Regions from separate parts of the Homo sapiens genome. Here all the other regions are reported to be linked to region 6. Evidence: microRNA targets listed by miRTarBase, many of them from high-throughput screens and not tested one by one. Region 6 holds a microRNA gene; each other region holds the end of a gene's coding sequence. Distances are between the middles of the regions.
What was found. Region 6 holds the annotated microRNA hsa-miR-3672 (AUGAGACUCAUGUAAAACAUCUU, at 3,213-3,235, opposite strand). A microRNA usually pairs through its seed, bases 2 to 8, with sites in the 3' UTR of a target mRNA and lowers its output. Matches are read on the target gene's strand: a 7mer-m8 pairs with bases 2 to 8, a 7mer-A1 pairs with bases 2 to 7 and ends in A, and an 8mer does both.

Region 1: the mRNA of SMAGP is a reported target of hsa-miR-3672. Seed matches in the 3' UTR shown: 7mer-A1 at 2,947-2,953 and 8mer at 2,762-2,769.
Region 2: the mRNA of SPTLC2 is a reported target of hsa-miR-3672. Seed matches in the 3' UTR shown: 7mer-A1 at 983-989 and 7mer-A1 at 2,307-2,313.
Region 3: miRTarBase lists RBBP4 as a target of hsa-miR-3672. Seed matches in the 3' UTR shown: 7mer-A1 at 3,965-3,971, 7mer-A1 at 4,461-4,467 and 7mer-m8 at 4,860-4,866.
Region 4: the mRNA of DDX53 is a reported target of hsa-miR-3672. Seed matches in the 3' UTR shown: 8mer at 4,288-4,295, 8mer at 4,098-4,105, 8mer at 3,913-3,920 and 8mer at 3,724-3,731.
Region 5: the mRNA of NFKBID is a reported target of hsa-miR-3672. The part of its 3' UTR that is shown has no 7-base or 8-base seed match.

The regions. Positions count from the first base shown.
Region 1 is chr12:51,241,895-51,246,958 of GRCh38, forward strand. It overlaps SMAGP (small cell adhesion glycoprotein), which reads right to left. Exons shown (of 4, transcript NM_001031628.2): 3 at 4,857-4,937; 4 at 2,664-4,225. The coding sequence ends at 4,047. DAZAP2 (DAZ associated protein 2) reads left to right here. Exons shown (of 4, transcript NM_014764.4): 4 at 436-2,039. The coding sequence ends at 564. Among named protein-coding and RNA genes, the nearest start is that of DAZAP2, 5.6 kb to the left of the region's middle.
Region 2 is chr14:77,507,734-77,512,801 of GRCh38, reverse strand. SPTLC2 (serine palmitoyltransferase long chain base subunit 2) reads left to right here. Exons shown (of 12, transcript NM_004863.4): 12 at 399-5,068. The coding sequence ends at 518. Among named protein-coding and RNA genes, the nearest start is that of ISM2, 11 kb to the right of the region's middle.
Region 3 is chr1:32,678,800-32,683,874 of GRCh38, forward strand. It overlaps RBBP4 (RB binding protein 4, chromatin remodeling factor), which reads left to right. Exons shown (of 12, transcript NM_005610.3): 12 at 841-5,075. The coding sequence ends at 906. It overlaps SYNC (syncoilin, intermediate filament protein), which reads right to left. Exons shown (of 5, transcript NM_030786.3): 5 at 1,107-3,061. The coding sequence ends at 3,051. Among named protein-coding and RNA genes, the nearest start is that of SYNC, 21 kb to the right of the region's middle.
Region 4 is chrX:23,001,338-23,006,412 of GRCh38, reverse strand. It overlaps DDX53 (DEAD-box helicase 53), which reads right to left. Exons shown (of 1, transcript NM_182699.4): 1 at 2,824-5,075. The coding sequence ends at 4,460. All of the region lies in intron 3 of PTCHD1-AS (PTCHD1 and PHEX antisense RNA), which reads left to right. Among named protein-coding and RNA genes, the nearest start is that of DDX53, 3.9 kb to the right of the region's middle.
Region 5 is chr19:35,884,190-35,889,264 of GRCh38, forward strand. NFKBID (NFKB inhibitor delta) reads right to left here. Exons shown (of 12, transcript NM_139239.5): 12 at 3,763-4,423. The coding sequence ends at 4,370. Among named protein-coding and RNA genes, the nearest start is that of NFKBID, 14 kb to the right of the region's middle.
Region 6 is chrX:121,369,146-121,374,220 of GRCh38, reverse strand. MIR3672 (microRNA 3672) reads right to left here and starts at 3,249; the gene lies at 3,168-3,249.

The DNA.
Region 1 (5,064 bases), not on the chromosome of region 6:
TGGGCGACAAGAGCAAGACTCTATCTCAAAAAAATTAAAAAAAAAAAAAATTAAAAATTAAAAACTATGTAGGGACCATGTGGGATTCATACATGGACTGGCACCCTGTCCCTGTTTTGGGAATGTGAGTAGGACAGTGGTTCTCTACCCTCAAAATGACTGTTGGTCTGGTCTGTTCATGTTCAGAAGGTAGCCATAGGCTTCATCTTAGAGCTGGAACCCTTTGAATGAGTGGTAGGCTCCCTTTCCTGTTTGTATCTTTGGGTTCACATAAAGTATAGACCTACTTTAGAACTCAAATTGGTGGCGGAACTAGCTCCTTAAAACGCAGCTGGTTAGCACATTGCCTCATCCTAACAGGCCTCTGCTTCCCCTATGTCCCCTTCGCTTATATTAGCTGCCCTGTGCCCATTCTATCATGTCATTTCCTTTCAGCCTCCACCTCCTGGATGCCCTCCCAATGCTGCTCAGCTTGCAGTCATGCAGGGAGCCAACGTCCTCGTAACTCAGCGGAAGGGGAACTTCTTCATGGGTGGTTCAGATGGTGGCTACACCATCTGGTGAGGAACCAAGGCCACCTCTGTGCCGGGAAAGACATCACATACCTTCAGCACTTCTCACAATGTAACTGCTTTAGTCATATTAACCTGAAGTTGCAGTTTAGACACATGTTGTTGGGGTGTCTTTCTGGTGCCCAAACTTTCAGGCACTTTTCAAATTTAATAAGGAACCATGTAATGGTAGCAGTACCTCCCTAAAGCATTTTGAGGTAGGGGAGGTATCCATTCATAAAATGAATGTGGGTGAAGCCGCCCTAAGGATTTTCCTTTAATTTCTCTGGAGTAATACTGTACCATACTGGTCTTTGCTTTTAGTAATAAAACATCAAATTAGGTTTGGAGGGAACTTTGATCTTCCTAAGAATTAAAGTTGCCAAATTATTCTGATTGGTCTTTAATCTCCTTTAAGTCTTTGATATATATTACTTGTTATAAATGGAACGCATTAGTTGTCTGCCTTTTCCTTTCCATCCCTTGCCCCACCCATCCCATCTCCAACCCTAGTCTTCCATTTCCTCCCGCCAGTCTCCATTGAATCAATGGTGCAGGACAGAAAGCCAGTCAGACTAATTTCCTTCTTTCCTCGCACTTCTCCCCACTCGTCATCTTTTAACTAGTGTTTCACAAGGATCCTCTGAAACCCTCTCTGTGCCCCAAGTACAGATGCCATTACTTCTGCTTTCGTATCTCCTCAGGCAAAAGTGGAGGGTGCCTTATGGGCCCTCCTCATAGGTTGTCTCTGCATACACGAACCTAACCCAAATTTGCTTTGGTGCCAGAAAAACTGAGCTATGTTTGAACAAAGATGTCGTGCAAACTGTACTGTGAACAACAGTTGGTTTAAAATATGAGGGGCAAGGAGGAGGATGCATTTCAAAAGCTTGATTGATGTGTTCAGAGCTAAATTAAGAGGAGTTTTCAGATCAAAAACTGGTTACCATTTTTTGTCAGAGTGTCTGATGCGGCCACTCATTCGGCTCCCCAGAATTCCTAGACTGGGTTAATAGGGTCATATTGTGAATGTCTCACTACAAAATGACTTGAGTCCAGTGAAATCTCATTAGGGTTTAAGAATATTTCAGGGATCCTTAATGTTTTGATTTTTGTTTTCTGAAATTGGATTTTATTTTATTTTATCTTATAATTTCAGTTCATCTAAATTGTGTGTTCTGTACATGTGATGTTTGACTGTACCATTGACTGTTATGGAAGTTCAGCGTTGTATGTCTCTCTCTACACTGTGGTGCACTTAACTTGTGGAATTTTTATACTAAAAATGTAGAATAAAGACTATTTTGAAGATTTGAATAAAGTGATGAAGTTGCATTACACCTCACTGCAAGGATTCTTTACTTAGCTTGTTTTTAGATTTCTTCTATATATATTTTATTTATATCCCATCTAGAATTCAGCTAGGTGCTGCTGCTGCTCTGTTTCCTTTGATGACGCTTTGAAATAAAGGCAGGAGTACAAGCCTAAGACTTGATCATTTCATGAATTCCATTCCAGATGTTCAACTTTTCATCATTTTACTCCAACCTCTTACAAATTTTGGAATTTCGGACCTAAACTTAGAAATGAGGGAACTATTGATTCTCCTAACTTGCTCTAAAGTTTGGCTTGAAGAAAAGGTTCTGGTATAGCAATTTGTATACGTTGAGGATGACCTTTAGTTTCTCCAATGTTCTATGTGGAGAAATACTGAAAACTCATAGAATCTAGGTTGCCAAGATAGATTCCTCAGCTCTTTTATTTATTTTTTGAGACAGGGTCTCCCTCTGTCACCCGGGCTGGAGTGCAGTGGCAGTGTCTGCTCACTGCAACCTCCACCTCCCGGGTTCAAGTGATTCTCCTGTCTCAGCCTCCTGAGTAGCTGGGATTACAGGCACCTGCTACAACACCTGGTTCATTTCTGTACTTTTAGTAGAGACGGCTTCACTGCGTTGGCCACGCTGGTCTCAAACTCCTGACCTCAAGTGATCTGTCTGCCTCAGCCTCCCAAAGTATTGGGATAACAGGCAGTGAGTCACTGCACCCAGCCAGATTCCTCAGCTCTTGATCTTAACTTGGTTGGGTTTGAGCTTGGACAACAGAGGCAATACATTAAGACTTCAAAGGAGATCTAGCTTTAATTCCAAAGTGAACAATATCTGATGAGCTAATAATTTATACCAAAATGTGCCTTTTAAACACAACTTATCTTGAGACTAAAATCCAAGAAGCTTCTTGGCTTGATTCTGAGGATACACTGGGAAAGGTGGTAGGTTGATTTTTTCTGGTTCCTTCTGTATATATGTAGAAGGGATTCTGGGAAATTCTGGCCCTTGCCAGGATGGAGGCTTGAACCAACTCATCTCCCAGGGTACTTTTTTTTTTTTTTTTTTTTTTGAGACGGAGTCTCACTCTGTTGCCCAGGCTGGAGTATAGTGGTGCAATCTCAGCTCACTGCAAGCTCCGCCTCCTGGGTTCAAGCCATTCTCCTGCCTCAGCCTCCCAAGCAGCTGGGACTATGGGCGCCCGCCACCACGCCCAGCTATTTTTTTTATATATTTTTAGTAGAGACGGGGTTTCACCGTGTTAGCCAGGATGGTCTCGATCTCCTAACCTTGTGATCCGCCTGCCTCGGCCTCCCAAAGTGCTGGGATCACAGGCGTGAGCCACCGAACCCGGCCCTCCCAGGGTATGTTTCTAATGATGTTCCCCTGGAACAAGCTTTCCTGCACCATCTTTGTCTCAAATCCCTGAGATAGTTCTGCAAACTTCTAGAACTTTCCTAGGGTTCTTATTGCTTGGAAGAGAACATATGTAAAGGCGTTAAATAGGGAAAAGAAAATGTCAAAAATGTTTAAGCAAAAATAAGTCAAAATGTAGTTACTTCTTGCACATGAGAATCTGATTTCTGTAGCAATGAAAATTTTTAATTTGAATAAAAATCACGTAAGCATGAGGTTGTTGGGGAACACGGAAAGGAAGGGCTCAGATTAGGGGGTGTAGCACATTTATCAGGAGGTAAGATCTCCATAGTCTCCTACCCCTCCTGGCCTGGCCTTTTACTGTGGTATCCAGCCTCTGGGAAGACCTTGTATGGACAGTATCTCCACTGGGGCTATCACTAGGTGACCAGGTAGGGGACAGAGTAGAGCAGCCAATGACCTTAACTCAAAATCTTTTCTCTCCCTTCAACCTGTGAAAAAAGATGACTGGGCACATACTCAGATGTCCCCTGGCATAGCCACATCTTGTTGGCCAGTCACAAACACCAGCTCTAGTAAGAGGGCCTGGTTAAAGATATCATAAACAGCTTTCTCCATGTCCCTGGTCCCTGGAGTCAGTGATGTCGGCATTTGGGACTGCGACCTGGCTGGAGCTTGGATTTGCCCACATCAATCAATGCTTCTCCCTGGCTTCAGAGAAAACTTTCCCATAATAAGCAGTCAACGTGTTAGCGATGGAGCCAGGAATAAGCTCCTTGGGGCCTGGGAGTCATTAGATGAAATATTCCTCTTTCTCGCTGCCCTTGGCCAAGTCACTCTCCATCTGGACGATGGCACTGGGCTCACCTTCTGTAGGTTCATAGGTGACGTAGCTGCCTTTGTTCTTGTACAGGTAAAAGAAGATCAAGATCACGACCGAGAGCAGGGTGAGGAAGACAACGGTGATAACAACTTGGAAAGGAGAGGGAAAATGTAGAGATGTTTCAGGATTGAGGATGTCTCAGTAGTTCCTGGAGTCATCTGATTTAGTCACTGTTTTCGTAAAGATCCTCTTGTTTTCATTAACTAGTGTCCACTTCCATCCAAACCCATGTTCCCCCACCAACCCCAATTTCCATGGCACATAATAGCTGGAGTCTCCTGGTGCTTAAGCTAAGGACACATGCTTTTGATTTCTGACAAAACTGAACTGCCTCCCAAACCAGTTCCTGATTCTTAAAGAAACGGGAAGGAGGGAACAGGAAATGGCTTATCCTAACAGGAAGTGGTTTATCTGATCCTCCCCCTCTTCCTCACCCACTCAACCAACCACATATATCCTCGTCCCTACCCACGTACTCAAGTGTAACGTCCGTATGCATATCTATTTGCGGCCACCTCCCAACCTGTCATTTACTGGTAGTGCCTCTGACAGAAGCCTCCGAGTCTTTTATGGCTGTGTGTGTGTGTGTGTGTGTGTGTGTGTGTGTGTAATATAACTTACAAGCCAGAGTGAGCCCATTAATGGATTTGGTCAGGCTCCCTCTGGAGAGAGATGCCCTTGATCCAGAAGGTCCCTTGGAGTTGGCTCAGAGTCTATTACCTGCAATGAGTGCTGTGCTGGCTCCATCTTCTGGGGACAGGGCCTCAGTGGGCTGTAAAATTGGGGTGGTCATCAGTTCTTCTGGAAAATGTAGAAAAGTGGAAAAGGAAATGGAGTGAATTCTTTTGTTTGAAAGCATATGTTTGGCCTTCAAATTTCACCACCCCACCTTCTTCCCTATTCAAAAGTTTATCATTTAACTCCTAGA
Region 2 (5,068 bases), not on the chromosome of region 6:
GGAGGTTGCAGTGAGCTCGGAGGGCGCCACAGCACTCCAGCCTGAGCAACAGAGCGATACTCCATCTCAAAAACAAAAGGGAGAGATGACAAATTGTATTCGGTTTTGTAAGTTCAGAGTGCATATAACTTTTTCTACCAAGCATATCATACTTTGAATTATAGCCTTTATTCTGCATACCTGGCTATTCACAACCCATTATTCATGGTGAGCTTGAAGGCCTTGTTCAAAAAGCAGCTCCTTCCACAGCTGTATTGTAGTCTGATCTTGTAAATGCACTAGACATAAGTCCTGCCGAAGGATAATCTTGCCATGATTGTTTTTAGCAAAGTAAAACACCAGGCATGCCTGCATCCTACTGGCTCTGACAGACCTCTACTTTGTCTTGTGTATTTTAGGCTTTAAAGGAGATAGATGAAGTTGGGGACCTATTGCAGCTGAAGTATTCCCGTCATCGGTTGGTACCTCTACTGGACAGGCCCTTTGACGAGACGACGTATGAAGAAACAGAAGACTGAGCCTTTTTGGTGCTCCCTCAGAGGAACTCTCCCTCACCCAGGACAGCCTGTGGCCTTTGTGAGCCAGTTCCAGGAACCACACTTCTGTGGCCATCTCACGTGAAAGACATTGCCTCAGCTACTGAAGGTGGCCACCTCCACTCTAAATGACATTTTGTAAATAGTAAAAAACTGCTTCTAATCCTTCCTTTGCTAAATCTCACCTTTAAAAACGAAGGTGACTCACTTTGCTTTTTCAGTCCATTAAAAAAACATTTTATTTTGCAACCATTCTACTTGTGAAATCACGCTGACCCTAGCCTGTCTCTGGCTAACCACACAGGCCATTCCCCTCTCCCAGCACCTTGCAGACTTGGGCCCATCAAGAGCTACTGCTGGCCCTGGCTCCGCAGCCTGGATACTTACCTGGCCCTCCTCCCTAGGGAGCAAGTGCCTTCCACTTACTTCCCATCCAGGTCTCAGAGGTCTCAAGGCCAACCTTGGAATCCTTATTTAACCATTCAAGTAATCAACGGAAGTTTTCACCCTTTAATCTTAAGTTTAGCCTTTTAAGAAAAACAGTAAGCGATGACTGCTGAAAGGCTCATTGTGTAATCTCCCAAGGGTTTGGTCTTATTCCATTTTCTTCTGGTCACCAGATGATTTCTTCCTTTACCATCAAATACTTCTTCATAATGGTCACAGTCTGAGGATGTGCGCAAATTCTGGTTCTTCCCAAGCTCTAACCGTAACACGTCCCACCCCCTTTTTAAAGCACTTACTGTTTTCAGAGCACCCATATCCCACCCTGGTGAGAAGGCCACTCTCACATCTGAGTGTTGGGTACAAAGCTGCTCCGTAGAGTGATGTGCACTCCTGGTGGGTGAGGGGCAGGGGCAGTGGCAGTGTGCAAAGAATTGATTACTCCTTGCAGAGCCTGTGGCTTGCATTTCCTACTGCTTTCTACGTTTGAAAATTATGACAGTCTCTGGCTAGGTCTGGGTCCAGATTAGGATTTAAACTGATAAAGGAAACTGTTGGTAAATCCTCTGCTCAGAAAGCATTTATCATGTTCCTATTTAAGGATTAGGTTTATTAATTTAGGCCTCTTAGAAGCTAACCCACTTAAATATTACTCTTCTGAATGCTAGTTCTCTTTTATTCTTGATGTCCTAAGTCAATTGAATCTGGCATCTGGGGCTAGGGTCTGCCTGTCTACATATTTTTTATTTTTTTCTGAGAAATTCTGAACACATAGATCTCTTTCCTAAACTGACATTTTCTATTTTGACTGTTTTCATACTATAACCAGGTAAAGGGACTTCTTTCAGAGAGCTTTATACTGCCTGACCAAAGAACAAATCTGAAAATCACCATTTTAAAGTTATTTTTTCAGTTGAACCAAAGTTTAAGTGAAGAGGACTTTTGGCATATTATACCCAGGATCAGTTTGTCTTTTTGTATCCATCAAGTATTACAGGAGAAGGATTGGGAACAGAATGGAAAAACAGTGTATGAAAGTCATGTTACAGGCCGAGTGCGGTGGCTCACACCTGTAATCCTAGCACTTTGGGAGGCTGAGGCAGGTGGCTCACTTGAGGTCAGGAATTCAAGACCAGCCTGGCCAACATGGTGAAACCCCGTCTCTACTAAAAAGACAAAAAATTAGCTGGGCGTGGTGGCGGGCACCTATAATCCCACCTACTTGGTAGGCTGAGGCAGGAGAATCGCTTGAACCCAGGAGGCGGAGGTTGCAGTGAGACGAGATTGTGCCACTGCACTCTAGCCTGGGTGACAGAGCAAAACTGTGTCTCAAAAAAAAAAGTCATGTTACACATTTAAGTTTTTGAAATTGCTCCTTTTATCGGTAAAGATTCTCAATCCAAATTCTCCTGGGTGTGTTGTCATCAGCTGTGATATGTTTGTGCACATTACGTATAGCAGAGGATGTAAGCAATATTATTGTTTGTGAAGTTTTGTTTTTAATGTCTTGAGTATGAGTTATGTTTAGTCACTGTCAGCATCTGAGAACTTTAATAAGCCCTTGAGATATTCCAAAGTTTTATTTTACTTTTTTAAAGAACAGAAAAAGATGAATGAAAGAACCAAGGAGAGATGCAGAGACTATATTTAGCATGTATAGGTTAAAGTAAGAAGGAGGTTGTGGTAACTAAATAGGAGTCCTATAAAATCAAATACATTGTCAACCTTTTCTGCACATCTAGTTTCCTACCATAGAATCCCACTGGAATACCACATAGCTTTTGCACTGCAGTTACTATTTACTAATGTAAACGTAGGGTTTGTAAAAGTCACAAACTTATAAGCAATGAACTTACCTGCTAGTCTTTTTATTTTGGCTTGCATGAAGTCACTGCAAATTCAAATGTCAGTACCGGCATTTAAAATATATCTATATCACTTTGTTGGTACAAAGTTATTTCAAGATAAGTGTAATTTTGTTACAAGTTTATTTTGAAGAGACAAATCTCCTGTGATCTATGCAGGACCTCTGTACTTTCTAAAGAACAAAATGTTATGTAGACATTATACATGGTTGGTTGTCTCTTCTTGAAACTGTAATGTAAATCTAGGGTCCAGTCATATCCTAGGTATCATCATTTATCCAAGTACTTGGAGGAATACAAGTATATATAAATACAGTCATTGAGAATAAGTCGATTTGAGGCATACAAGAGTAGTTTCTTACACAGTTTAACACGGCCTGATTCAAGACTCTGATAGGATTCAAACAGATACCGGTTAACCATGACTACCAAAACTGATCATCTGAGTCGATTGATAGAGGTGTGACTAGTCCTTAGCACTTTTTCTCATTCCTCTTTTTATTCAGCATTGCTGTTACCTATTTCAGGTTTATAAGACCTCTTTCAGCAGATCACATCAGAAGCCAGGAAATGCATAGCTAGGAGATGTCAAAAGCCCATATGAGGAGTGGACCAAGCAGCAGTGGCGGTTTCTCCTCGCATCTTTTTTTTTTTAAGCTTTAACTTAGCAGGGGCATGGACTTTATAGCACTTTTTCAACTTTTTGCTTTGCTTTGGATAAGAAATCCTTACCTTTAAAAAAAGCTTCTAGTCTCCATAACCCCCAAAGTACTGCTTATTTGTTTGAAGAATCCAGCCATCGTAGTGCTTTAGTCACTATCGTAAACATTCATGATAGGGCAAGGATTTTAAAACAGGATTCTTGCTTCTGTAGTCATCAAGGTGAACAGAAGCATCCTACACAACCACTAAGGGCTCTATGTTTGTGTCATGCCTCTTCAAACACCAAGGAGTTGAACATGCTTCCAGTGATTTGTCTCCGTAATGCCTTCTTCCTTTATTTGGCCTTTCTTTCTTTCTGTACCTTCAAGTTCTTGATTTTTAAAATTCCAACTCTAGAGAAAACCAATATATGGTGGTGCTGGGCTTTGAAGATAGCATATCAGACGCCTTGGTTCTGTTTGTACACTTAGCCTTACATTTCAGGAGGAGGCTTTTCATTAGGGGCTTAAGCTAGCTCCTTTGGCTTTTAAAAAAAATTTTTTTTCAAATTTCTTCATTACCTAAGGGAGCCTGCATCTAAATTTCTCAACTAGTTCAGCCTAGCTGAATTTTCTAGTGTGTTATACACTTTGCTTCCTTCTTATTGGTGAAAACCAGGGGGATGAGTGGCTTCCATGGAGAGATTTCCTGATTTCTCAGGGAGGAAAAAAGTGATGACATTTACCACTACTTTTATGTTTTTCCCCTTTTTCCAAATTGATAAGGATTTCTGGTTCCTAGTGATCCGGGATTGGGCAACAGTGCAGAACTGCCAGTCATGCCGTAGGCCGTGAAGAAAGAATGTGAGTAACTGTTGTTTTGCAAGGATTTGTAGGGTTATGGGCAGTTGTTGTTTGAAGCATTGCTATGACCTAATTCCCAAGGTATCTTTCCTCTCTTGGTGTTCTAGGTAAGCCAATGAGCTTTAATCTCTACTTGCTATAACCGTGTGCTTAGAAAAAGAGGTGAGAGTAGTGGTTTTCCTTCAAACTGTCCACATTCATGAAGATTATGAATTGTTAGGACAGCCAGGGCAAGATAGACCCTGTCTCTACAAAAATTTTTTTCTAAATTAACCGGGCATGGTGGTGCCTGCCTGTAGTCCCACCTGTGTGGGAGAATCACTTGAGCCTGGGAGGTCAAGGCTGCAGTGAGCCATGATTGCACCCCTGCACTCCAGCCTGGGTGACAGAGTGAGACCCTGGCTCAATAAGAGGGGGAAAAAAAATTGTTAGGAGCTGGGTGCGGATGCAGCCTGCAATCCCAGCTACTTGAGAGGCTGAGGCCGGAGGATTGCTTAAACCCAAGAATTTGAGCGTAGCCTGGGCAACACAGCAAGACCCCATCTAAGAAAAAAATGTTTTTTAAATCAGCTTAGCCCAAAGGGGTTGTGAATGGGGAGGTATAAAAAGCAAAGATTATTTTTTGGCTACTAAGCCAAGAACTTACAGGGATTTTTTTTTTCAGTCCCAGAACCTACAGATACCCTGCTACTTGCTTCACGTGGATGCTCAGTGCCCA
Region 3 (5,075 bases), not on the chromosome of region 6:
GGCTAGTCTCAAACTCATGACCTCAAGTGATCTGTCTGCCTCAGCCTCCCAAGTGCTGGGATTACAGGTATGAGCCACCACACCTGGCCTGACTGGCTTTTTTATGCCAAATAATATTCCATCATATGGATTGGATATACCGTGTATCCATTTTAGTAGTTGATGGATATTTGGGTTGTTTTTACTTTTTGGCTATTATTAATAATGTCTGGTTAGGCTGGGCACAATGGCTTACTCCTATAATCCTAGCACTTTGAGAGGCCGAGGTGGGCAGATCACCTGAGATCAGGAGTTCGAGACCAGCCTGGCCAACATGGTGAAACCCCATCTCTATTAAAAATACAAAAATTAGCCAGGCGTAGTGGCATGTGCCTGTAATCCTAGCTACTCTGGAGGCTGAGGCAGGAGAATTGCTTGAACCTGGGAGGCATAGGTTGCAGTGAGCCGAGATGGTGCCACTGCACTCCAGCCTGGGAGACAGAGCAAGGCTCCATCTCAAAAGGAAAGAAAAATAATAATGCCTGGTTAAAGAACTCAAGAATGTTGGCTATCAAGACAAATAGTATCCACACTGCAGTTTTGTGGGAATGTCCTAATCAGGCGTCTGGGGATCAGCTGCTTATTTTTATTGGAACATGATCATGCTAATTAATATTTCATTACCCATTATAGGTTGTCTCCGGATACTTTCATCCAAGAGTTGAATAGTTGTAACACAGATTGTGTGGCCCAAAAGCTATAAAGTATTTACTCTCTGGCTTCCTGGCCTAATCTGTTGTTGAAACCTTGAGTTTTAGAAGAAGTCTTCATGTTTAAATTCTTTTTCTTGTTTTTGGGCAGGCAGAGAACATTTATAATGATGAAGACCCTGAAGGAAGCGTGGATCCAGAAGGACAAGGGTCCTAGATATGTCTTTACTTGTTGTGATTTTAGACTCCCCTTTTTTCTTCTCAACCCTGAGAGTGATTTAACACTGGTTTTGAGACAGACTTTATTCAGCTATCCCTCTATATAATAGGTACCACCGATAATGCTATTAGCCCAAACCGTGGGTGTTTTCTAAATATTAATAGGGGGGCTTGATTCAACAAAGCCACAGACTTAACGTTGAAATTTTCTTCAGGAATTTTCTAGTAACCCAGGTCTAAAGTAGCTACAGAAAGGGGAATATTATGTGTGATTATTTTTCTTCTTATGCTATATCCCCAAGTTTTTCAGACTCATTTAAGTAAAGGCTAGAGTGAGTAAGGAATAGAGCCAAATGAGGTAGGTGTCTGAGCCATGAAGTATAAATACTGAAAGATGTCACTTTTATTCAGGAAATAGGGGGAGATTCAAGTCATATAGATTCCTACTCGAAAATCTTGACACCTGACTTTCCAGGATGCACATTTTCATACGTAGACCAGTTTCCTCTTGGTTTCTTCAGTTAAGTCAAAACAACACGTTCCTCTTTCCCCATATATTCATATATTTTTGCTCGTTAGTGTATTTCTTGAGCTGTTTTCATGTTGTTTATTTCCTGTCTGTGAAATGGTGTTTTTTTTTTTGTTGTTGGTTTTTTTTTTTTTTTTTTTAACTTGGGACCACCAAGTTGTAAAGATGTATGTTTTTACCTGACAGTTATACCACAGGTAGACTGTCAAGTTGAGAAGAGTGAATCAATAACTTGTATTTGTTTTAAAAATTAAATTAATCCTTGATAAGAGTTGCTTTTTTTTTTTAGGAGTTAGTCCTTGACCACTAGTTTGATGCCATCTCCATTTTGGGTGACCTGTTTCACCAGCAGGCCTGTTACTCTCCATGACTAACTGTGTAAGTGCTTAAAATGGAATAAATTGCTTTTCTACATAACCCCATGCTGATGGGTTTTATTTAGTATAAAACATCCATCAAACACCAGTCTCTGGCTTCTAGAAGAGTCCTTCAGATGACAGTTGTTGTCCATGGTCTTTGACTATCAAGAGCAGAATTAAATGTAATAGTCCCAGAGCTGTAGAAAAGAACTTTACTCCTTCCCAGGGAAAGTGAAAGACATAAAACACTGAATCAGAGGTGGCACAGATTAGTCTTTGATAAGGTAACGTTTCTTTGAAGTCTATCTGTAGAGAACTACATGGACTTCCAAGAGTGTCAAAGGCAGTGTGGTAGAGAGAATTTAAGGCAAGATTTAAATTTGGAAAAGGTGCTTGAACCTTTTCTCAGAGGTTTTATTTCCCCAGTATGTTTTTCACTGGGGCCTTTACTTAGGTTAGAAATAATAGGCTTTGAAGGCCTCTATCACCAGATGCAATAACCAGATAAAATTCCTGTTTTTTCCCAATCGCTTAGTTTTTTGTTGTTGTTGTTTTTTAACTGAGTAGATCATTCTGACCCAGAACTACTTTCATGAGGTAAGATCTTTGGGAAAATCTGAATAGCGTTAACCATTAGATTCAAATCTCAAATGGTTTCTTTTCAAGTCTAGTTGTTTTAGAGTATAGTGAGAAATACCTTGACACAATTTTAAGAGTAAACTATATGGGTCAGCATATCCTTGAACAAAAAGTAGACTTTGTAAAAGTATTCATTTAAATTCTAACACTCGTGGCACAAAAGAATGGAAATTGTAAACCCATGTAATGGAAATTGGCTATCTTTTTGACCCCACATGTGCCCCTCAAAAATGTTTTTGGTTTGGGTCAACACAAGGCAAGATACATTCTTTAAAATACTCCCAGATGTGTCCATACATTCATCCTTCACTCAGTGCATATGTGAGGGTTGTTGCTGGAAGACAGGAGGCTCATCTTTCCTTTCCTTGGTGCATTGAGATCAGTATCAACAGCAGATGAAATAGAATCCAGCAAAGAGTTGACATGTTCTGCCTCCGGCCAACTCTAGAATCTTTTTAAGCAGGTCAGCCAGTATTTGCAACTTCCACAGGATGAATTGCTTGCCAAGTTTCTGGCACTCTTGTCTGGTTGGAAGAGTACATCCAAAGGGTACTTAGTGATCCTTTGCTAAGAAGTTTTTTGCTGTTTCCGGGTTACAGATTTGGCCATATATTTCTAAACAGCCCCTGTAAAGTTGAAAGAAAAAGTTTATAACAGTGAACTTCTGAGGTTTAGTTACTGCAGGCTTTGTTGAGAAGAGATTGTTACAGTGTGATTTATGGATGATCAGGGATGACTTTCCCCTAGCAAATATTTGGATGCCTCCTGTTTGTCAAATAGAATGAATGGTGATGGTGATGGGAGGGATAGTTAAACGTTTTCTCTGCTAGGTTAACTTCTTACAGGTATAATTACAATGCCTGAAATTCTGTAGTTTCATTTCTTTGGATTAGTCGTTGTCTTTTCCAGATTGTACACAATCTGATCAACACAAAGGTAGTTAGTAGATCATTAACCTCAATTGCAAGGTTATAATTTCTCAAACATTAAGCATATTATCAGTCATGTGGATTCAAACACAGTATAAGAAAATCCTCAAGGCTGGGTGTGATGGCTTATGCCTGTAATCCCAGCTACTTAGCAGGCTGAGGCAGGAGTATTGTTTGAACCCAGGAGGCAGAGTTGCAGTGAGCCAAGATCGTGCCACTACTCCAGCCTGGGCAAAATAGCAAGACCCGACCCCCCATCTCTACTAAAAAGAAATTTAAAAAAATAAAATCCTAGAAAATTAGAAAAAGCAACAATAGTTACTTGTGGGCCAGGCGCGGTGGTTCACGCCTGTAATCCCAGCACTTTGAGAGGCTGAGGCACGTGGATCACAAGGTCAGGAGTTCAAGACCAGCCTGGCCAAGATGGTGAAACCCCGTTTCTACTAAAAATACAAAAACTAGCTGGCCGTGGTGGCATGCTCCTGTAGTCCCAGCTACTCAGGAGGCTGAGGCAGGAAAATCACTTGAACCCAGGAGGTGGAGGTTGCAGTGAACTGAGACCGTGCCACTGCACTCCAGCCTGGGTGGCAGAGCGAGACTGTCTCAAAAAAAAAAGAAAGTTGTGAATTTGATGTAAGCTTAGGAAATGAATAAAATTTATAGGCATCTGTATAATGTACAACTTGACACGGACTTTCTTTTATCCTTAGTTTCTTTCACGGACTCTAGAACTTTTATCAGAATATACTGGTAAAACATTGGGGGAGGGATCCTGAGTAGGTGATTGGTCAGAAAGATGCCTTCAGTTTTGTCAGTGTCTAAAAGTTAAGTCTGTTTAGGCCAAGCATGGTGGCTCACACCTGAAATCCCAGCACTCTGGGAGGCCGAGGCAAGTGGATCACAAGGTCAGGAGATGAGACCATCTTAGCCAACATGGTGAAACCCCGTCTCTACTAAAATACAAAAAAATTAGCCAGGCGTGGTGGTGCGTGCCTATAATCCCAGCTACTTGGGAGGCTGAGGCAGGGGAATCGCTTGAACCCGGGAGGCAGAGGTCACGCCACTGCACTCCAGCCTGGCAACAGAGCAAGACTCCGTCTCAAAAAAAAAAAAAAAAAAAAAGAGTAAGTCTGTGTAACATGAACATCTCTGCTTCCACCCAAAACCACAGCCTTTGAATATTATATAAGGAACTTAATGGATAGATATGTTTATTATTTTTGATAGCACAACTGCTTTCTCTGCTATTATAAGGAAAACTGAGAATAGCAGGTGGGTAGGGTAGGATGAGGAAACAAGATGCCCAAAGCCTAGATGCCACAGAATTCATGGTGATAATCAGGGCATATTTTGAGTCCTACTAGAAACAAACATTCCAAATGAACTCTGAATGCCTGACTCAGGCGTTTTGGAGGTTTGGGTTATCCCCTTGTCATTAGGCACACAAGGGTTTTTTGTTGTTTTTGTTTTTTGGGTTTTTGTTTTGTTTTGAGGCAGTCTCACTCTGTTGTACAAGCTGGAGTGCTGTATTGTGATCTTGACTCACTGCAACCTCTGCCTCCTGGTTCAAGCGATTCTCCTGCCTTGGCCTCCTGAGTAGCTGGGATTATAAGTGCCTGCCACTATGCCCGGCTAATTTTTGTATTTTTAGTGGAGATGGAGTTTTGCCATGTTGGCCAGGCTGGTCTTGAACTCCTGACTCCAGGTGATC
Region 4 (5,075 bases), 98 Mb from region 6:
GTGCACCTGGAAAAGCCACAGAGACTCATTTCGAGCCCATGAAAGCAGCCGGGAGAGGGGGTATACTCTGCAAAGCCACAGGGACAGAGCTGCCCAAGACCATGGGAACCCACCTCTCGCATCAGCGTGACCTGGATGTGAGACCTGGAGTCAAATGAGATCATTTTGGAGCTTTAAGATTTGACTGCCCAGCTGGATTTCACGCTTGCATGGGCCTGTAGCTCTTTTGTTTTAAGCAATTTCTCTCATTTGGAATGGGCAGATTTACCCAAGGCCTGTACCTCCATTATGTCTGGGAAGTAACTAAATTGCTTTTGATTTTATAGGCTCATAGGTGGAAGGGACTTGCCTTGTCTCAGATGAAACTTTGAACTGTGGACTTTTGAGTTAATGCTGAAATGAGTTAAGACTTTGAGAGACAGTTGGGAAGCCATGATTGGTTTTGAAATGTGAGGACATGAGATTTGGGAGGGGCCAGGGACAGAATTATATGGTTTGGCTGCATCCCCACCCAAATCTCATCTCGAATTGCAGCTCTCATAATTCCCACATGTCATGGGAGGGACCTGGTGGGAGGTAATTGAATCATGAGGGTGGGTCTTTCCCACACTGTTCTCATGATAGTCTCATGAGATCTGATGGTTTATAAATGAGAGTTCCCCTACACAAACTCTCTTGCCTGCTCACCATGTAAGATGCACCTTTTGTCCTCCTTCACCTTCCACCATAATTGTGAGACCTCCCCAGCCATGTGGAACTGTGAGTCCATTAAACCTCTTTTTCTTTATAAATTACCCAGTCTTGGGTATTTCTTCATAGCAGTATGAAAATGGACTAAGACAACAACCCACCAAATCTTTCTCCAGACATTGACAAAATTGGGCCTGGTAGAGAACCACTGATGTAGACTACACCAAAGACAGGAAGTTTGTAGGGATACTTTTTCTCTGCAAAACCCGCAAGATATAACTTAGAAACCCTCTATTTTTTTTTTTTCTTTGACGTGCCTTTTTGGTTACTAAGCAGTTGGTTTTGGTTGTTTTTCTTATGCTGTCTCAGGGGTTCCCCATCTCAGCACTATTGTTTTGTGCCAGATAATTCTTTGTTGTGAGGGGCTGTCCTGTAGATTGTAGGGTGTTCAGCCTCTACCCACTAGATGCTAGGAGCACCTCACCCCCTACCCATAGCTGTAACAACCAATACTGTCCACAGATATTGTCAAAGTTCCGCTGGGGAGCAAAATCACCCTTGGTTAACAGTCATTGCACTATTTCTACTTATCTTTCTCTATACACTGGTTCTTCTGTCCAGCATTATGTTGTAGAAGAAATGCATACATCTCTCATTTCCTTACTCATAGACATTGAGTGATAATTTTTCTTGTTAAGTGTTACTTACACATGATTATGGAAATATACTATCTCAAGTGGTTGAGTTGTTGCATTCTTTTCTAACAAATATAGCATTGCCCCTAAGAATAATTCTGGAAAATAACATATACTCTAACTTGCTAAACATTTATCATTTCTCCTCTTGAGTGAACAGCACTAAGCCATTTGAGCTTCTATTACAGTTCTGCTATAGATTGCCTTTGCATTAAATTTGCACACACTTCTCTATTTCACTAAATCTGAACTTGTAGAGAACCTCAAGACAAGCATATTGCCTTTAAACATAATAACTATACTAAAATTAAAAAATATAAATATTGGAATCAGGCACTGCCGGGTCAAAATATCCCTTAAGTCCTCTAAATATCACTTAATTTCTCTTTAATCAGGTTTAGGGCCCTTAGGCAAGTTAGCTCCTCTGACTTTGCTTCATCCCCTGCAAAATAGGGGTAAGATTTCCTTCCGAGTGGCGTTCTTATAAATATTAGAGATTAGGAGATAAAGCGCCAGGTATGTATCACTCAACAATGTTAACCATTGTTATTAATTTTATCCAGAGATATTAAGGTCTACATTTTAAAAAGCCTTTAAAGTCTATACTTTAAGCCTTAAATACCTATACCTAGAACATTTACTTCTTTCTTTCCCTTATTTTCTGACTTATTTGTAGTCACAGGTAAGGCATGCTGGGGAAAAAAGTTTGTTGCCTTAATTTTTCTCTTGATTTTACCAGAAATGTTAACTAATTCTAATGTTTTCATGAACACTGAATTTTAAAGTTTACTTAACATCTTTGTAGGGATTTCTTTTTGCAGGTGTGAGAAGCACCTTGCTTCTAAATAAGGCATAAGAGGTAGAATTATAGATAAAATTAGGAAGAGTTTTACTAAAATTGGTTCTTATGGCAAAAACGTCATTTGGTTTTTTTTTTGGTTTTTTTTTTTTTGAGACAGAGTTTTGCTCTTGTTGCCCAGGCTGGAGTGCAGTGGCACGATTTCAGCTCACTGCAACCTCTCCCTCCCGGGTTCAACTGATTCTCCTGCCTCAGCCTCCCGAGTAGCTGGGATTACAGGCATGCGCCACCACACCCAGCTAATTTTGTATTTGTAGTAGGGACAGGGTTTCTCCATGTTGGTCAGGCTGGTCTTGAACTCCTGACCTCAGGCGATCCGCCCGCCTCGGCCTCCCAAAGTGCTGGGATTACAGGCGTGAGCCACCGCACCCAGCCCTTATTTGATTGGTTTTAATGTTTTTCCCAGTAGATAAATTTTTCTTTCACTTTAATTTTTTCCCCGATATATGTATCTATATATATATGGTTTTGACCTTCAAATTGAATTAAAATAAAGCATGATGAAAAGAAAAGCAAAGAATAAAATGAAAACCTACCAGTTAAATTGCAAAATCAATAAAAATGCAGAATGCACTATTCTTGTCATTGAAAAGGATTGTTTTATTCAATTATACAAGGATGCAATTTCCCCTAGATTAGACAAAAAAGTGTTAATACAAGGCTGGGGTATACAGTTTTAGTTATAATGTCACCGAATTTTAGAGGTAAAAGAGACCTCTAAATTAATAAAACTGTCCCATTTTATGAGTAGAGAAATTGAGGCCTAGAGAAGGCAAGTGATTTCCTCAGAGTTTTAACCAAGGGTTAGTGACAAAATGCATACAAGGACCTGAATCCCAGTGAGTCAGACATCCTGCTCTGCTGGTGACATCATTCTGATAAAAATAGAATTGTGGAATCTTCTAAAAAATTTAGCACTTATTTTCTAATGAACTAAAACAAGTAGAGAATGATAGTGGAAATAACTTTAAGAACTGTTGTGGCACCAACTGCTCGGGGGAAAAGAGAATACTTTGACTGGATAAGCTTGAAGCTATGCTTCAATTTAGTACAACTATTTTAAAGCCAGAAAAGCACCATTGTTGTCTTCTACCAAGTGTTTTAGAGAAGACAAATGGACATGGTAGACTATAAAATTAACACAAGAACAGAAACTCAAATACCACATGTTCTCACTTATAAGTGGGAAGCAAACGATGAGAACTTATGAACGCAAAGAAGGAAACAGCAGACACTGGGGTCTAGCTGATGGGGGAGGGTGGAAGGAGGCAGAAGAGCAGAAAAGATAATTATTGGGCACTGGTCTTAATACCTGGGTGACGAAATAATATGTACAGTAAACCCCCATGACACGTGTTTCTTTAACAAACCTTCACATATACCCCCAAACCTAAAATAAAAGTATTTTTAAGAGAAATTAAACTTTAACCAACACATAACATTTACTTTCTCTTCACATAGTCTCTCACTCTCTCATTTTTGAGACTTTTTTAAAATTAAGGAACATACACAATATTGAAAGTTGATAAACCCCCATGACACGTGTTTCTTTAACAAACCTTCACATATACCCCCAAACCTAAAATAAAAGTATTTTTAAGAGAAATTAAACTTTAACCAACACGTAACATTTACTTTCTCTTCACATAGTCTCTCACTCTCTCATTTTTGAGACTTTTTTAAAATTAAGGAGCATACACAATATTGAAAGTTGATAAACCCCCATGACACGTGTTTCTTTAACAAACCTTCACAAATACCCCCAAACCTAAAATAAAAGTATTTTTAGGAGAAATTAAACTTTAACCAACACATAACATTTACCTTCTCTTCACATAGTCTCTCTCTCATTTTTGAGACTTTTTCTAAAATTAAGGAACATACACAATATTGAAAGTTGATAAACCCCCATGGCACGTGTTTCTTTAACAAACCTTCACATATACCCCCAAACCTAAAATAAAAGTATTTTTAAGAGAAATTAAACTTTAACCAACACGTAACATTCACTTTCTCTTCACACAGTCTCTCACTCTCTCATTTTTGAGACTTTTTTAAAATTAAGGAGCATACACAATATTGAAAGTTTAGCAGTATTATTTAAGAATTAGTTATGTCTTCAAATGGCTAGTATGTTTCCAATACTTCCTTACATATATTCAATACTGCATATCTTTAACATGCCTGGAATCTTCCAGTAGCCTGGTACAACTTTTCAACTTAAAAAATAAAACTCCTTGCGTCTTTGTCCAGGTTTTCTTGATCGTGTTTCTCTGTGCCTCTTTTGTTGATTTAACTTGTATTGCTCAGCCATTACTACAAGATCTTCCGGAACACTCTGATTTGCTCTGTCCAGAATTTTAATCAATTCACCGGCCATTTTCGAATCTCTCTGAGTGATGAGGGTAACTGATGTGCCAGTCTTTCCTGTCCGTCCAATGTACCCTACTCTGTGTACATATACGTCAATATTCCTTGGGAAATCATAATTATATACATGTGTGACATCATTAAGATCAAGACCTCGGGATACTATATCAGTTGTAATCAGTATCTTTATGTTTCCGCTTTTAAAGTCCTCTACTGCTCGCTCTTGATCACTCTGTTCACTGTTGCCATGTAATGATTCTGCAGATATGCCTTGGATATTGAAGTCGCTTGACAAGTCATCAGCAATATGTTTTTGGCTGACAAACATGATGACTTTGTCGTTGGGTGACATGTTCTCTACGAATTCTTGGGTGAGAGCTCGTTTTTCTTTTTCTGTGGTAACAATTATATTTTGCTTCACTGTATTTACAGCCACTAGATTCAGATTACCAACATAAACA
Region 5 (5,075 bases), not on the chromosome of region 6:
CTATTTTGTTTTTTTTGAGTAGAGACAGGATTTCACCATGCTGCCCACGCTGTTCTCAAACTCCTGAGCTCAAGCTATCCTCCCATCCTGGCCTCCCAAAATGCTGGGATTACAGGTGTGAGCCAGTGTGCCCTGCCCAAGATGGCCATCCTCTTACTGCATCTTCATATGGCAGAGAGTAGAGAGCAGAGAAGCAAGCTCTCTCCTGTCTCCTTCTTTTTTTTTTTTTTTTGAGATGGAGTTTCACTCTTGTTGCCCAGGATGGAGTGCAATGGCATGATCTCGGGTCACCGCAATCTCCACCTCCCAGGTTCAAGTGATTCTCCTGCCTCAGCCTCCTGAGTAGCTGGGATTACAGGCATGCACCACCATGCCTGGCTAATATGTATTTTTTAGTAGAGACGGGGTTTCTCCATGTTGGTCAGGCTGGTCTCGAACTCCAGACCTCAGATGATCCACCCGCCTCGGCCTCCCAAAGTGCTGGGATTACAGGCATGAGCCACCACGCCCGGACTCTCCCATCTCTTCTAACAAGGACATTAGTCCCATTCATGAGGGCTCCACCCTCATGACCTAACTACCTCCCAAAGGCCCATCTTCAAATACTACCCCACTGGGGCTTATGGTTTCAACAAATGAATTTTAGAGGGACACAAACATGCACTCCATAACAATACAAATTGAGATATACATCTTATATGTCAACAAAACCTCAGATGCCATCAGTGATAAAAAATAGCATTATTTTAGGTACCACAAAAGGAAAAAAAAGGCAAAATATAAACTATGTCACACAATTGACTATAAGATGATCCCAATTAAGTTCTTCTGTATTTTTTATTTTATTATTATTATTTATTTACTTACTTTAGAGACAGTGTCTTGCTGCCTCCCACGCTGGAGTGCAGTGCTGCAATCATGGTTCACTGCGGCATCAAACTCCTGGCCTCAAGTGATCCTCCTGCCTCAGCCTCCAAAGTAGCTGGGACTACAGGCACCCGCCACCATGCCCAGCTAATTTTTGTATTTTTAGTAGAGACAGGGTTTCACCATGTTGACCAGGCTGGTCTCCAACTCCTGACCTCAAGTAATCCGCCCTCCTTGGCCTCCCAAATTGCTGGGATTACAGGAGTGAGGCACCTCGCCCAGTCCCCAGATAACTCTGTCTCCCAATATTGAGACCCTTGTGTAATGCCTCCCACACTGATCTGGGATCAATGACATGTCAACAAGTATGATACAAGCAGGGACTTGTCTCCTTGGATCTCTCTTTCTTGGAACCACTGAGCCACCACCTGAAGTTAAGAGATCCACCTGCCCTCCTGGACTGCATGGAAAGACTCTTGGGCCACTCCTGGAAGCTCCATTATCTCAGCTGAGCTATCAGGCATGTGAGTGAAGGTGTTGTGGATTTCCAGGCCAGTTGGGCCTCAGGTTGATTGCAGCCACATGAGGAACCAAAGGGAGACAGCAGAACAGCCAGCTGAACCCGGCGTAGATTTCAGTCAGAAACAATTAAGAGGGGCTGGGCGCGGTAGCTCACACCTGTAATCCCAGCACTTTGGTAGGCCGAGGTGGGTGGATCACTTGAGGTCAGGAGTTCGAGACAAGCCTGGCCAACATGCTGGAACCCCAATCTCTACTAAACAAATACAAAAATTAGCTAGACGTGGTGGTGGGTGCCTGTAATCCCAGCTACTTGGGAGGCAGAGGCAGGAGAGTCGCTTGAACCTGGAAGGCGGAGGTTGCAGTGAGCAGAGATCGCGCCACTGCACTCCAATCTGGTGAGACTGAGACTCCTTCTCAAAAAAGAAAAAAGAAAAGAAATAATTAAAAGGGTGTTGGTTTAAGCCTTAAGTTTTGGGGTGGAGACATTGGCTGGAGCCCCGGAATGTGCTAACATGTACATTCGGTCTGTGGTCCATGAAAGGTTCCTAGCTATGGGGGCTGTGATGGGTCCAAGGGCTTTCTGGGATGGGGGCTCTTTGTGTGATTATATTGCAGAGGCCAGAGCAGAGGCTGTGGAGCGGGTATGAGAATGGGGTTTGGGTTTTTTTTTTTTTTTGAGACGGAATTTTGTTTTGTTGCCCAGGGTGGAGAAAAGTGGTGGGATTTTAGGTTAATGGAAGTTCCGCCTCCTGGATTTAAGGAATTTTCCTGCTTTAGCCTCCCAAGTAGGTGGGAAAACAGGTGCCCGCCACCATGCCTAGCTAATTTTTTTTTTTTTTGGTTTGTATTTTTAGTAGAGATAGGGTTTCACCGTGTTAGCCAGGATGGTCTCAATCTCCTGACCGCATGATCCGCCCGCCTCGGCCTCCCAAAATGCTGGGATTACAGGTGTGAGTCACTGCGCCTGGCCAATTTTTTTGTATTTTTAGTAGAGACAAGGTTTCATCATGTTGGCCAGGCTGGTCTCAAACTCCCGACCTCAGGTAGTCCACCCGCCTCCGCCTCCCAAAGTGCAGGGATTATAGGCATAAGCCACTGCGCCCAGCCTTGGGGGTTTTTTTGTATCTTTTTTTGAGACAGAGTCTTGCTCTGTCGCCCAGGTTGGAGTGCAGTGGCGCAATCTCAGCTCACTGCAACCTCTGCCTCCCAGGTTCAAGCGAGTCTCATGCTTCAGCCTTCTGAGTAGCTGGGATTACAGGCGCACGCCACCACGCCTGGCTAATTTTTGTATTTTTAGTAGAGATGGGTTTTTGCCATGTTGGCCAGGCTGGTCTCAAACTCCTGACCTCAGGTGATCTGCTCGCCTCGGCCTCACAAAGTGCTGCAATTTTAAGTGTGAGTCACTGCGCCTGGCTGAGAATGGGGTTTTGTGGAATTCTTAGTTTGGGTTTCTCCAAAAGCAGCTATGGAGGGAAGGATTGGAGGGAAAGTTCATTTGGAAGGGATGGAGAACATTGGTAGGGGAGACAGGAAGAGACACAGAGAAGAAAGAGCAGCCAATAAAGGGTATTTTATCAAGCCCAGACCACTGTGGGGAACTGGGGATTCATCTGCTGGGGAACTCTGGAGCCCGCATAGGCCATGCACTTCCAAGTTAGCCCAACAGACAGGTGGGGGACTATCTCCTATCAGTAACTGGCTGAGGGCTGCTGGAGTGGGAAGTGGACACGAACCCCCTGGCTTTCAACACTTGCCATGCTCATACCTGGGGCAGAGCCGCACCAGTGGTTTGAGATTGCCCAAAGGCAAATATTCTGGGGCTGACACCCAGGCTGGTCTCAAACTCCTGGCCTCAAGTGATCCTCACACCTTGGCCTCCTAAAGGCCAGTCCCTCTTGTGTCGCCAGGGTGAGGGTGACAGGATATGGACTTGGCACCCATGGTGGCTGCTACATCCTCCCCCCTCAGGCACATTCATCCCAATATGACCCCTCAGCGGGCATCACAGCCACTCCCCTGCACCAGTGCCCCCAGAGATCAGACAACAGTGGTTCTAGTCCAAATTGAGTTTAAATTTTTTTTTTTTTTTTTTTTTGAGACAGAGTCTCTCTTTGTCACCTAGGCTGGAGTGCAGTGGCACAATCTCGGCTCACTGCAACCTCCGCCTCCTGGGTTCAATCAATTCTTCTGCCTCAGCCTCCCAAGTAGCTGGGACTACAGGCGCATGCCACCATGTCCAGCCAATTGTTTTTGTATTTTTAGTGGAGACAGGGTTTCACCATGTTGGCCAGGCTGGTCTCAAACTCCTCACCTCAAGTGATCCGCCCGCCTCGGCCTCCCAGAGTGTTAGGATTACAGGCATGAGCCACCAAATCTGGCCCAAATTGAGTTTAATAAAGAGCTTGAGTGATGCTCAGATTAGGGAGGGAGTGACCGGGAATGCTGGGGTCTGGAACTGGGGGCCCAGCTGAGCTCTGAATCAGAGAGCAGTGAGACCTAAGGGTCCCTGATCTCAGAGGGTCCCTCCTGTCTCAGGGTGAGGACCTGAAGGGTGTGGGTCCCGGGGAGGGTGAGGAGGCCATTGTAGGAGATTTACTGAGATGGTATCGGGATGCCCCAAGCACCACGTAGGGGGATTACATCTGGGTTTCTGGGAACGAAGAGCTGAGTTAGGGGAGAGAACCCGAAAGATCTCAGTGGGGAAAGGACTAGGGGTGCAGGGTGTTTCACAGAAACAATCAAGGGGCCTCGATTTCACAGAAATCATCAAGAGGGCTCCTTGTGGGTAGAAGAGGGGTATCACAGCACCCCAAATATTGGGGCCTGTTCACCCCTCTGCAGCCATTCTGGGGTTTTAATGTAAAACCCCAATGGCAGGATATTCCACATACATTATCATGGGTTTGCAACATTAGCATACGCTGGCTGTCCCGCAGGACGGTGGGGACTGGAAAATCAGTCCAGGGTCTGGGTTTGAGTCCTAAGAGGACAGGCCTGGCGGCGCCACACGGCTCCTCTTCAACAGCTGCCGGAGCTGTAGACAAGGCAAAGGAGGGAGAGAAGTCTGTCAGGTTGGAAGGAGAGGTGGGGAAGGCACGCCATGCAGAGGGAGGGGCTAGAGAAGAGAGGTTGAGTGGGTCCCTTTGGATTTGAAGATCAGAGGTCCAGAGTCAAGATTTTGGAAGAGCCAGGTGCAGTGGCTCACGCCTGTAATCCCAGCACTTTGTGGGGCTAAGGTGGGCAAATCACCTGAGGTCAGGAGTTCAAGACCAGCCCAGCCAACATGGCGAAACCCCGCCTCTACCAGAGATACAAAAATTAGCCGGGCATGGTGGCACGTGTGCCTTTAGTCCCAGCTTGGGAGGCTGAGGTGGGAGAATCACTTGAACCTGGGAGGTGGAGCTTGCGGTGAGCTAAAATTGCACCACTGCACTCCAGCCTGGGTGACAAAGCAAGACTCCGCCTCCAAAAAAAAAAAAAAGATTTGGGAAGGAGGCCGGGAGTGATGGTTCCTGTGATCCCAACACTTTGGGAGGCCAAGGCGGGAGGATCAATTGAGGCCAGGAGTTTGAGATCAACCTGGACAACATAGTGTGACCCCATCTCTTAAAAAAAAAAAAAAACAAAATTAGCTGGGTGTGGTGGTGACTGCCTGTAGTACCAGCTACTGGAGAGGCTGAGGTGGG
Region 6 (5,075 bases):
GATATTGGAATATGAGCATCCAGTGCTGGACTCCTCAAAGAAGCATCAATTTGAAAAATTACCCACTCATGAAAGTACCTTCACAACAGTTAAGGAATCTATGTAAGTGATTGCAGCAACTGGGTGGAGCAATGAAATAAAATAAAATGCATTGAAAAGGGTATGTGGTGTGTGAGACAGTTACACAAATAACCACACCACCCCTCCCCAAAGCCCTCACAGTGTAGCATGGACAGACACATCCTCCACATGGAAGAATGACAGTGGATAAGCATTCACCTTATCTATAGACCCCAGCACCAGGCAAGCACCCATGGACCTAGGCTCTAGGGCCACCCCAATGCCAAGCTAGTTACCACAGCCACAGGCTCCGGGCCCATCTCTGTGGAACAAGGCTTCAGGCCCACCCAGTGTTGAGCCAGCCCAGACAGCATCAGGCTCCCAGCAGGCCCTCATGGACACAGACTGGCACCTGTGAACCCAGGCCCTAGGCCAACCTCAACACAAGGCAAGTTCCTGTGGCCCAAGGCTCTAGGCCAGCATCTGTGGACCCAGACTTCAGGCCAGCCCCTATGACCCAGGTCCAAACCAGACCCCACAGTCTCAGACTCCAGACATACTCTGGTGTCAGACTGGCTCCTGTGGACCCAAAACATAAGCACACCCCCACACAAAGCTGACCCTCCCCAACTCAGGCTCAAGTTCTACCTCCCTGCAAGGTTGAACCCCATGTACCCAGAGCCAGGCTCAACCCTATGAACCAGGACACCAGGCCTACCTGTACAGGCTTGAGCTCAAGGCCTGGCCCTGCAGATCCGTACACAAGGCCAGCTATAGTGAACCTAGGCACCAGGCCCTAAAACAAGGCCAGCCTGCCCAAGAACTCCAGACCCAAGTCCGAACACGGATTCCATCTGCTGACCCAACAAGACCCTCTAGCCAAGCTGACTGGTAAAGTCAGCTTCCCTGCCAAACCCAGTCTGTAAAGACTGAAAGAGGTGCCTACTTTTTCAAATGTGCAGATACCAACACAAAACTACAAGGATCATGAATAATCAAAGAAATATGACACCACCCAAGGAACAGAATAAAGTACCAGTAGCTGACCTTAAAAATAGAGATCTATGAAACGCCTGATAATTTTAAATAATGATCTTTAAAAGTTCAGGGAGGCCAGGCACGATGGCTCACGCCTGTAAACCCAACACTTTGAGAGGTCAATGCAGGAAGATTGCCTCAGCCCAGGAGTCCAAGGCCAGCCTGGGCAACGTGGTGAGACTGTCTCTACAAAATATTTAAAACTTAGGTGGCTCATGCCTGTAATACCAGCAATTTGGGAGGCCGAGGTGGGCAGATCACTTGAGGCCAGGAGTTTGAGACCAGCCTGGCCAACATGGTGAAATGCTGTCTCTACTAAAAACACAAAAATTAGCTGGTCGTGGAGGTGGGCGCCTGTAATCCCAGCTACTCGGGAGGCTGAGGCAGGAAAATTGCTTGAATCTGGGAGGCAGAGGTTGCAGTGAGTTAAGATCACACCACTGCACTCCAGCCTGGGGGACAGAGCAAGCCTCCATCTCAAAAAAATATAAATATATCCAGGCATTGTGGTACATGCCTATAGTCCCAGCTTCTTGTCCCAGCTACTTGGAAGGCTGAGGCAGGAGGATCACTTGAGCTCCAGAGGTTGAGGCTGAAGTGAGCTGTGTTCATGCCACTGCGCTCAAGCCTGGGTAACAGAATGAGACCCTGTCTCAAAAAAACAAAAAACAAAAACAAACAAAAACTACGAAGTACAAGATAGACAAACAACCAAACAAAATCAGGAAAACATTATATGAGCAGAACAACAAGTTCGACAAAGAGAAAAAAAAAAAAAAACATTAAAAAATAACCAAGCAGAAATCCTGGAGCTAAAGAACGCAACGATTCAATGACTGAACTGATATATTCCACAGATGTCTTCCTCAGCAGACTCAAACAAAAAAAGAATCAGTGAGTTCAAAGACAGCTTATTCAAAATTACTCAGTCAAAACAACAAAAGGAAATAAGAATAAAAAATTATGAAGAAAGTATACAGAATTTATGAGACACAATCAGATGGACCAATATACACATTATTTGAGGCCCAACAGAATAGAGACAAGAGGGGCAGAAAATTTCTTTAAGTAAATAATGACAGAAAAATTCTCATATCTGAAGGAAGTGAACATCTAGATCCACGAAGGTAAAGAGCCCCAAATATATTAAACATAAAGACACCTCTTCAAGATACATAATAAGCACATTCTCAAAATTCAAAGACAAAGAGAGAATTTTGAGAGCAGCAAAAGAAAACAGGCTTGTCACATACAAACCAACTTCCACTGGAGTATCAGAGGATTTTGCAGCAGAAGTCCTGCAGGCTAAAAGAGTAGGATGACATATACAAAGTGATAAAATAATAAAACTGCTAATCAGTAGTTCTTTATCTGGCAAAGTTGCCCTTCAGATATGCAGTAGAGATAAAGACTGTCCCAGACAAAGAAAAGCTAGGGGGATTAAACACCCCTAGACCTGCCTTACAAGAAATGCTAAAGAAAGGCCTGCAAGTTGAAAAGAAAGGACACTAACAACAAAAAGAGAGAAAAGTAGAAAACTCCCAAAAAACAAACATAGTCAAATTAAGAATACTCTAATGTGGCCAGGCGCAGTGGCTCACGCCTGTAAACCCAGCACTTTGGGAGGCCAAGGCAGGCAGATCACGAGATCAGGAGTTCGAGACCAGCCTGGCCAACATAGTGAAACCCCATCTCTATTAAAAACACAAAAATTAGCCAGGCATGGTGGTCCACACCTGTAGTCCCCGCTACTCGGGAGGCTGAGGTAGGAGAATCGCTTGAAACCAGGAGGCAGAGGTTGCAGTGAGCCAAGACAGCGCCACTGCACTCCAGCCTGACTCCGTTAAAAAAAAAAAAAAAAACTCTTACGTTATGATGTGGTACATAAATCATGTTTGACTCTAGCACAAAAGTCAAAAGAAAAAGGTATGAAAATAACTATAATAACTTTTTAGTATACACAATATAAATGATATGAAGTGTGGCATCAATAACATAAAATGGGGGGAAGAAAAAGTTGAAGTGTAAGGTTGTTTTAACATGTTCAAAGTTATCAGCTTTAATAGTAATCTTTGTGATTATCATGAGACTCATAAAACATCTTGTAATAGTCTAAGATGTTTTACATGAGTCTCATGGTAATCACAAAGAAAAAAATGTGTAGTAAATACACAAAAGATAAAAAAAGAAATCAATGCATACCATTACAGAAATAAATCACAAAGGTACACAGAAATAGAGGAAGAAAGACATAGAGGAATGACAAAATGTCAGAAAGCAATTAACAAAATGGCAATAATAAACACTTAACCTATTAATAAGTTATTTAAATATAAATGAATTAAATTTACCAATAAAAAAACAGAGTGACTAAATCGATTTTAAAATTAGAATCCAACTATATGCTAAGTAAGAAGACTCACTTTACTTTTAAGAACACAGAGAGGATGAAAGTGAAGAAATGGAAAAAGATATTCCATGCAAATAGTAACTAAAAGAGAGCTTAGTTGGCTACATTTATTTTACTTACATCAGAAAAAAACCAGACTTTAAGTCAAAAACTGTCACAATAGACAAAGAAAGTCATTATATCATGATAAAGGGGTAAATTCATCAACAAGATGTAACAAATGTAAATACATCTATGTATGCAATATTGGAGCACCTAAATATAATATATAAGGTATTTATTAACAGAACTGAAGGGAGAAATAGACAGCAATAAAATAACAGTCCACTTCAATACCCGATGTTCAACAATGGACAGATTATCCAAAGAGAAAATGAGTAAGAAAACAAGTGGCTTGAACAACACTATAGACCAAATGGACCTAACAGACATATACAGAACATTCTATTCAACAGCATCAGAACATGTAGTCTTTTTAAGCGTATAAAGAAAATATTCCATGACAGAGAATATGTAAGGCCAAAAAACAAGTCTAACAAATTTGAGATGATTGAAAATATATCATATATATATTTCACTTCAATTTATTTATTGTGCTAATAATTTTTAATTTTTAAAATAAATTATTGTGGGTACATAGTAGGTATATATATTTGTGAGGTACACAAGATGTTCTGATATAGGCATGCAATGCGTACCAATCACATCATGGAGAATAAGGAATCCATCCCCTCAAGCACTTATCCTTTGTTTTACAATCCAATTGCACCTTTTTGTTATTTTTAAATGTATAATTAAGTTATTATTGAGTATAGTAACCCTGTTGTACTGTCAAATGTAGATCTTATGTTCTTTCTATGTTTTTGTACCCATTCTTTCTATGTTTTTGTACCCATTAACCATCCCCACATTCCCTTCCTGGTCCTCTGCTACTACCCTTCCCAGCTTCTGGCAACCATCCTTCTACTCTCTATGTCCATGAGTTCAATTGTTTTGATTTTTAGACCCCACAAATAAATTAGAACATGTGATGTTTGTCTCTCTGTGCCTGGCTCATTTCACTTAACATAAAGATCTCCAGTTCCATCCATTTTGATCTTTTTAATGACTAAATAATACTCCATTGTGTACAGGTACAACATTTTCTTTATCCATTAATCTGTTGATGGACGCTTAAGTTGCTTCCAAATCTTGGCTATTGGGAACAGTGTTTCAACAAACATGGGAGTGCAGATACTTATTTCCTTTCTTTGGGTATATGCTCCACAGTGGGATTGTTGGATCCTCCAAAATGTTCTCTATAGTAGTTGTACTATTTTACATTCTCACCAACAGAGTGGGAGTCTTCCCTTTTCTCCACATCCTCGCCAGCATTTGTTAGTGGCTGACTTTTGGATATAAGCCATTTTAATTGAGGTGAGATGATATCATATGGGAGTTTCAATGTGCATTTCTCTGATAATCAATGATGTTGAGCACATTTTCATATGCCTGTTTGCATTTGTATGTCTCCTTTTGAGAAATGTCTATTAAAATTTTCTTGCACATTTTTGATCAAATTAATATC